2 linked regions of the Homo sapiens genome follow. The protein of the gene in region 1 purifies or fractionates together with the protein of each later gene. This does not show direct contact. Each region holds a gene or a part of one and is shown on either strand. Other genes may lie near its edges. The genes, in order: L3MBTL4 and AHCY.

Evidence for each region.
Region 2: the proteins of L3MBTL4 (region 1) and AHCY purify together in Homo sapiens (affinity purification with mass spectrometry; one large-scale study listed by BioGRID and IntAct). This does not show direct contact.

What each region holds. Positions count from the first base shown.
Region 1 is NC_000018.10:6,240,221-6,244,038, forward strand, and holds part of L3MBTL4 (lethal(3)malignant brain tumor-like protein 4), read right to left. Parts: intron 3,210-3,818; coding exon 3,074-3,209; intron 1,230-3,073; coding exon 1,138-1,229; intron 1-1,137. UniProt on the Homo sapiens protein: Putative Polycomb group (PcG) protein. PcG proteins maintain the transcriptionally repressive state of genes, probably via a modification of chromatin, rendering it heritably changed in its expressibility.
Region 2 is NC_000020.11:34,293,146-34,296,963, forward strand, and holds part of AHCY (adenosylhomocysteinase), read right to left. Parts: intron 2,441-3,818; coding exon 2,250-2,440; intron 1,012-2,249; coding exon 936-1,011; intron 1-935. UniProt on the Homo sapiens protein: Catalyzes the hydrolysis of S-adenosyl-L-homocysteine to form adenosine and homocysteine. Binds copper ions.

The sequences.
Region 1 (3,818 bases):
TCTGCTTCCCATAGGCTTTTGAAGTTTCCAAATGCCACTATTTGAAAAAGTGGTGAAGATATGCTCTAATTAGCACCAAAGTATCCTGTTAATTTGATTACTCAATCTGAAAATAAGTGGCTTTTTCAATATTTAAGAAATACATGCTTAAATAAAATTATAATTTAAAATGTGTATTTATATATAATTTATATATATTTAACATATAATTTAAATTTATAATTTTAAAATGTGAGTGCTTTTTTACTATCTGTGCTTTTCTTAGTATAAAAATACTATGAACTATGATTTACAATAACATAACAATTACAAACCCACCCTTCATATATCTATAATTAGCCAATCCTGGGATTTAGGGAGTACATACAGTATCCGGGAACTGAAAGAGGGTGTTTTTCTCTACTTCTCTTTCATCAAACCCTGATTTTTATTCTCCTTCAGCACATTCTATTTTTACAGCAACTTCACGTTTTAATAGCTCCTTTTCTTGATACAAATCTAGGAAACATATTTAACGATTGTATAACACTGCTTTCAAGATCACAGAAGTGATGTCTGGAGAAATTCAGTGAGTGGCCTGCACAGTGACACCGCCTGCCAGTGGCAGAGCCGACTTCTGGAGTTGCAATTTATTCTCCTCCACTGAAGGTTCACTAGATTTCTGGGGACACGGATGGCATAAGAAGTGTGATCTACCCAGATCCGCAGAACACCCCTTCAATTAGTACAAAATGTTACTCTCATTTTCATTACACTTAAATATATCTAGGCTGGGTACATTCAAAGCCTACTTAGAGTATCTGCTGGTTTCAAAACACCAAAAGCAAGATTAAAGGATTAACTCCCTGTAAGGGAAAACATTTTTAAAAGACACTTTCAATTTTAGTAGGCTTTAAACATAAAGTTTTTAAGTTTTCCCAACTTTTTCTCATCTAATTGAAGTATTTAATTATACTTTTAAAGGAAGAAAACCAAGATATGCCCACAAGAAACTGACGAATTAGGTGAGAAAAGTGACAGGAAGTTAACAGTTTCCATAACTTCTTAAAGGATTAAAATAAAACAGAATATATAGTGAATTTTAAGAAATTTAAGCTTGGGGGAAATTTGATTTATGCTGGGAAAGAAAATACTTACAGGACTTCTGTTTCTGAATAATTTCTTTGGAGCATTTTGCAATTTGCAGGCCTTCAAGTAATCCATCCAAACAAATTTATCTTTTCTATAACCTAAAAAAAGCACAGATTACTCAAAATACCCAAAAGATGTAATCACATGCATATTAAATATATTAGGTTGGTGCAAAAGTAAGTGCGGTTTTGGCCATTACTTTTAATGGAAAAAAAACGCAATTACTTTTGCACCAACCTCATATGGTTATTATTAGTGTCCTGCCATAAATTCAACGTCCTTAGCACCCACAAAAGATTTAAATTAAAATCTCCAAATTGTTTCACCTTTTTAAAATGTATTATGTGCAAAACTGTTGATAGTGCTTCCCCATCACGCGCATCATTCCCGATACAATTTCACATGCTCTGATACGGAGTCAGTACTCTGGTGGCCTGATGGGAGTCTCATCGCCCATTAAGGCTTTCCTGAATGGGCAAAGGGATGAGACCAGAGTTCCCGTACCTGTCCCCACTCCTGAGGAAGAGACTTTACAGAGACCATCAGAGGTCCTGAGGGTGCAGCCATCCAGGATGCCAGGCACAGAAACGCCTTCTCAATCCAATGCCCACTCCACAGCTCCAGCTTTCTGCGCCGCATCTTTACTAGTCTCCCATTAAAAACTGCTGCATCCTCCCATTCGCATGCCCTGGCGTGGCTCTCACACAGTGCTGGCCAAACAGTACAGGCTCAAAATATGGTTCTGAGCACCAGCCTTGGAACAGAAGTCAAACTCCCTGCACAGCCTTCCAGGCCTGGGAACACCACCCTCTTCGTCCCCGACCTTCCCACCTGGGCGCTTCTCTGCTGTCTCCCTGAGATGACTCATCCTCGCAAAGCGCACTCCTGCCCCGGCGCCTGCTCCTGTTCTTCCCTTGGAGGGCTTACCCAGACACCACACTGCTTCCTCTGTCATTTCACCCACGTCTCTTTGGAACATTATGTCCACAGAGAGGCCTTTCTCCCCCATGCTTTCTGAAAGAGTGTCCCTGCAGCCACCGCCATTATCCTTCTCCTCTGAAATGAAGCCCCGTGGAGATAGAGACATTGCTTTACTTGCTACTGGCCCTCAGTGCCTCACGTGGTAAGGGCTCCATAAATACCTACTGAATGAATGAGCCTGTAGCCTGTCACCAGCTTCCTCCAAACCAGCAACCTCAAGGACTCTGCCATCAGCCTCAGGGGAGGATCCCAAGGGACACCCTGAGTGGATAACTAGGAATAAAGGACTGTATACTGACTCCAGAAGTTGCCACAGACATCGAACAGTCTGACATCCAAGCCAGAGACAATGTACAGAAGTTTGCTGTGCAAAGATATGAGCCCGTCAGCATCATCCTTGACCACATCCCCACCTCACTTGCACACAGCAAATCGAAAAGGTTTTGGTCACATCTGCCTGGCCCAGACTCCTCTAGCACATAACAAAACCATGATATTTTTCATTCCCATCGAAAGAAAATAGTGATTTTTTTCATAGTTCTTTGTTTTCCGTGATTCCTAAGTCTGAAACAAATTACTTACAGTGAATCAAGTTTCCTCACCTTGCTGTATCATTGATTAGATATTTTGTTTCAACCATGATTTAAATATTAGTCTGCACTGCTTATAAGGTTTAATAAACTTTATATAAAATAAAATAAAATGCTTTCATAATATTTTATTTCTGCCTTCTGTACATTATCAGAATATTTGACCTAAATAGTCATTTATGCTTTTCTTTAAAGACATTTACTTCTAAAAATGGTACCATTATAGTCTTACTACTCTTTATGGAACACAATTTCATTTTGGAAATCAATCCACACCAGGATCTCTTCTTCGAATTTCATAAAGTATTGTTAAAATATAAGTGAAATACCAATTGATTCTCTTTCCAGTTGGTAAATGTATCCTGGCTTACCCTTAGGGATGTGCAGTTCATGTTTGGTCTTTTCACACCATCCTACTGGATGAATGTCAGGGGAACCAGCATTGGTCCAAAAATCATAGCAACTTAAATAACCATCAAAATGAAGTCTTAGACGGTAACCACAAACCTGCAAGATAGAAAGTTTACAATCATTCGTTAAGTGTCATATATTTGGAGTAGACACAAAATTCACAAAATATTCATATATTTTGTCAGTACTATCAACATATAAGAGCCAACCCTTCTATCCAAATGTTTCCATTAAAGAAGAAATTTATGGATGACCTCTGATTAAGCTCTAATGAAATTAGACCCTGTCTTACAGGTATCTAGTGCATTCTGCAAAATAGTGACCCTTTTACCCAATCTAGGAATCTGAGGGTCAGTTTATGTATTCATTAATTAACTGGTTTATTTATTAATTCAATACCTGTCAAATATTCCCTTCAGCAACCCTATCTTCTGCCCTCTGGCCTGGATTCACATTCCAAGACAGTGTAAGCTAAAGTACAAAGCACAACTAAAATAAGCATGGCCTTGTTTCAACTCTAACATATGTATCCAGCACACTCAATAAAGAGAATAATAAAATGGTCTGAGAAATACATCCTCTAGACATGTGGTACAACTTTAATAGCTATAATCAATCAGTAAAGTAAATAAATGTGACTGTTATGTTCAATGCTATCAGAAATATAAAGATCTTTTATGGATTTAATAATATATTTAGTAAGTA
Region 2 (3,818 bases), on another chromosome or scaffold:
GAGGCAGCCATGACCATTATCATCACTTACAGATGCCCAGAGAGGAGCTAAGACGCACTTGGGCCACTCTAAATGAAATTCCAGAATAGACACCAGAACTGAGGGCTACTGACCACCAGCCCACACTCCTCCCATGTGGCATGACTAGGGCACAGGTGTGGGGTTCCCAGGAGCCTCTTGTGAGCAAAGGACGCTGGCCAAGCAGAGCCAGCTGCTTCTACCCACAACTGGAGCAGACAATAGTCTTAAGAATTGCAGTGAGCCAAGATCGCACCACTGCACTCCAGTATGGGCAACGGGGCAAGACTCTGTCTCAAAAAGAAAAAAAAAAAAGAAGAAAGCCACGGTGCCAAGGCTGAGGAATGGGGATCATGCCCATTCAGCCCTGGTCAGTCTGTGAAGGAGTGCTGTGCCACCCCCTCCTGTCCACCTGTGGTTGGTTAGAAGCAATCTTGAATGTCCTAATCACTGGGTCAGATCTAACCACTCCCCTCCCCAAGTCCAAGCAGACATGTGCCCAGCCTGTGAAAACTCCATTCTCGTTAGACTTGGTCCTTCCTCAGTCCTTTAGACCGCCATACCCTAGGCAGTGAACCTCTTTTTCTGCCCCGTAGCCCTCCCCAGTTCTTTGGAAAGAGATCCACATCCTTCCTTTAATGAACTTCCCCTCCGCTTCATCATGTAGTTCCCAATCATAAGATCTTGCTCTTCCTGGTTACACGGCTTGACCTGGGTCAATAAACAACTTCCACAGGATTTTAGATGATGATGGGACAAAGCAGCTCTTTCCTGTGGGGTCGCTGGGCTAGGATTTTGTGGCGGTGACTCCTCTCCCTTTCTGATATGTAAGGAAGTCTGTTGCTCTAGCAGTCAGTGAAGCAAAGAGGGCAGAATCCCTTCACAAATTCCACGTCTCAGAAGCAAGCAGGACTTACCCGGAATGCCAGCCTTGGCAATGGCAGCCGCCGCATGGTCCTGGGTGGAGAAGATGTTGCAGCTGGACCACTGCACCTAGAAGAGCCATCAAAACAAGGCTGTTGGTCACTGATGGCTCAAAAGCACCAGGGACGCTGGGCGAGGAAAAGGGAGAGCTTCGGGTAGTGGGGAGAGGCTTGGGATCTAGGCACAGCAAGCTCTAGGATCACAGGCTGGGGATGCTGGGTGGGCAGATGGGAGCCAGAGCAGGGGCGAGATCCAACTCAGGTTTTAAAACCTCACTCCAGTGCTGTGTGGAAGGGAAAGGGTGGAAGCAAGGGGACAACTGCAGAGACTGTTGGAGAAGACTCCAGACAAGAAATATGACAGTAGCAGTGGAGATGATGAGAAGTTGTCACATCCTGGGTCTACTCTGAAGGCTGCACTGACAGGATTTGCAGAGGGATGAGTTGTTGGAGTAAAGGGAGTTGGGAGTGGGGAGGAAAGGGAGGGGAGGAGATGACTCCCAGATTCGTGAATTGAGAGAACCCAGAAGGCTGGAACAGAGGTTCCATTTACTCAGGTGGGGAAGGCTTTGGGAAGAAGAGGGGGCAGAAAATCCTGAGTCTGTTTGAACGCGTTCTGCCTGAGATGAGTACTAGACCTCCAGGGAGCGTCAACGCCCCCGCTCCTGGATATGCCAGTCTTGAGTTCCAGGAGAAGTCCAGGCTAGTACAAAAATGTGACAGTCATCACCAGATAGTGTCTAAAGCTATAAAATCAGACCGCCAAGAGTGAATGCTGAAAAGAAAGAAGAGGTCCAAGGACTCAGCCCTGAGCCCCTCTGTGGATTTTGGCTCCATTGCCCTACCCTGCTTTGGGAAACCAGCTTGCTTCTTGACTCTCTGAGACCTTAGGAGAGCTGTTAATCATTGGCACACATGACCCAGGCTGAACCAATCAGAGCTGCCATCATCCAGCAGCCATGATGGGTCCAGGGTAGGCCTGTGACCCCCGAAGGGCCAAGGCAAGCTGGCCCTTAAGAGACTAAGTAGGACATGGGTGTTGAATTTTTCCTGCCAGAGCATCCATCAGGAGGATGCCTTGAGGGTAGCCAACAGTGACCTTCCCAGCCAGGGAGAAAATCTGCAGAACACTCACCACAAGGGGTGGCAGCACTGGGAAACGGAGGAAACCGAGTGAGAGGGAGGAACCCCTCCAGGCCCGCGGTCAGCTCCACACCTGGAAGGTCCCCACCCTGGCACAGTCGTCTTCTTCCCTGGCTGAACCCAGGGAGGGCAAGGACTCTGGGGTGATACAGCTGTGGGCCTCACCTCAGCACCCAGGGTGACGAGGGTCTCAATGAGGACGGCCGTCTCCACGGTCATGTGCAGGCAGCCAGCGATGCGGGCGCCCTTCAGTGGCTTGGAGGCCGAGTACCGCTCCCGCATACGCATCAGGCCCGGCATCTCGTTCTCAGCAATGTCCAGGGCCTTGCGTCCCCAGGCAGCCAGGCCGATGTCGGCTACGGGAGGAAACAGGTGGGAGTTCCGTGAGTCCCCTCATCCCACCAACCAAGAGGGGCGGTCACTGCATGGACCCCGATCCACGTGTGGACTCAACACACTAGGGCTTAGCACTCTGTCACCGCATTCTCTCACTCATGCAACAAGTATTTATGAAGCCAGAGTACTCAAGAAAGACACGGTCCCTGCCTACCTGCACCTTTCTGACTTGTGGGAGAACACATTTAATCACACAGGGACACAAAAATTACAACATAAAGAAGCGTCCCTTTGAAAAATAGCTCACATGATACTTCCCACTACCCTGCCTTTCTGCTGACACCTACCAACCTCCAGGCCACTCCTCACTCCCTAAAGACTCCCTAAAGATGTTAGCTGCTGGTTCTCCATCTTCCTCTCTCAGTCATCACTCTCGGTGATTCAACACTTATAAATACTATCTAACATTTTGGATTTGACAGTTCCTTGATCTCCTTTTAGATGTAAAAATGCTTCCCCACTCCTGATGTTTCTTTCCACCTGGAGGAACTCATCCGTATAACGAATGCTCTTGGCCTCTCTGCCCCAGGGGAGGTGGGGTGAGCTTGTCTGACCAGTAAAACTGAGAGGAAAAAATGGTGTGCTCAGCTTAGCTCTCCCTTCTTTTTGCAAGCAAGCACTCACCTGCCCACTTGCAGGAAGCTGGTGTTCTCTGCTTTTCCAGAGACCAACCTACCCTGGCCCACCTTGCCTGCAACTGATTGGGTAACTGCTGAATCTGGGGGTTCAATAAGCAGGATCATTTGGATTTCATATTAATCTATATCCTCTGGCTTTGAGGTTATTAGTAATAAAAGGTAATATTTCAGGTGTTGCCACCTAAAATACTAATCTACATCCTCTGGCTTCATGGTTACTAGTAACAAAAAGTATTTCAGGTGCTATCTGCCACCTAAAATGTCTCGAATTTGTTCAAATTCTCAGGCAGGAAAGAAGGATATTATTATGAGCTAACTCACTATCTCAATACTCTCCCCTACCACACTGGTCCACTTCCAAGGTCATACCCTAGGTCAGTCCCTAGGTCAAAGTTTGCAGACTTCCCCGGTAAGGGATGTTCCTCTGGCATGCTTGTAAATCTCCCCTGGAAAATATGATTCAGCAGGTCTAAGACTCCTGGTGATTTTTATCTTTAGGGAAGCTGAGATCCTGCCAAACACCCAAAGAGGTAGGCGGTGGGAGGCAAAGGACTCTGTAGAGAATTTAATAATCTAAGAATTTAATAATCAATAAAATTGTCTGTCAGTCAGCTTCCTACAGTGCATTTTAACAATTTCAGAGATGAAACACGCCTCCCGCATGAGAGACCACTCCGGCTGTGCCTCAACTCAAGCCACC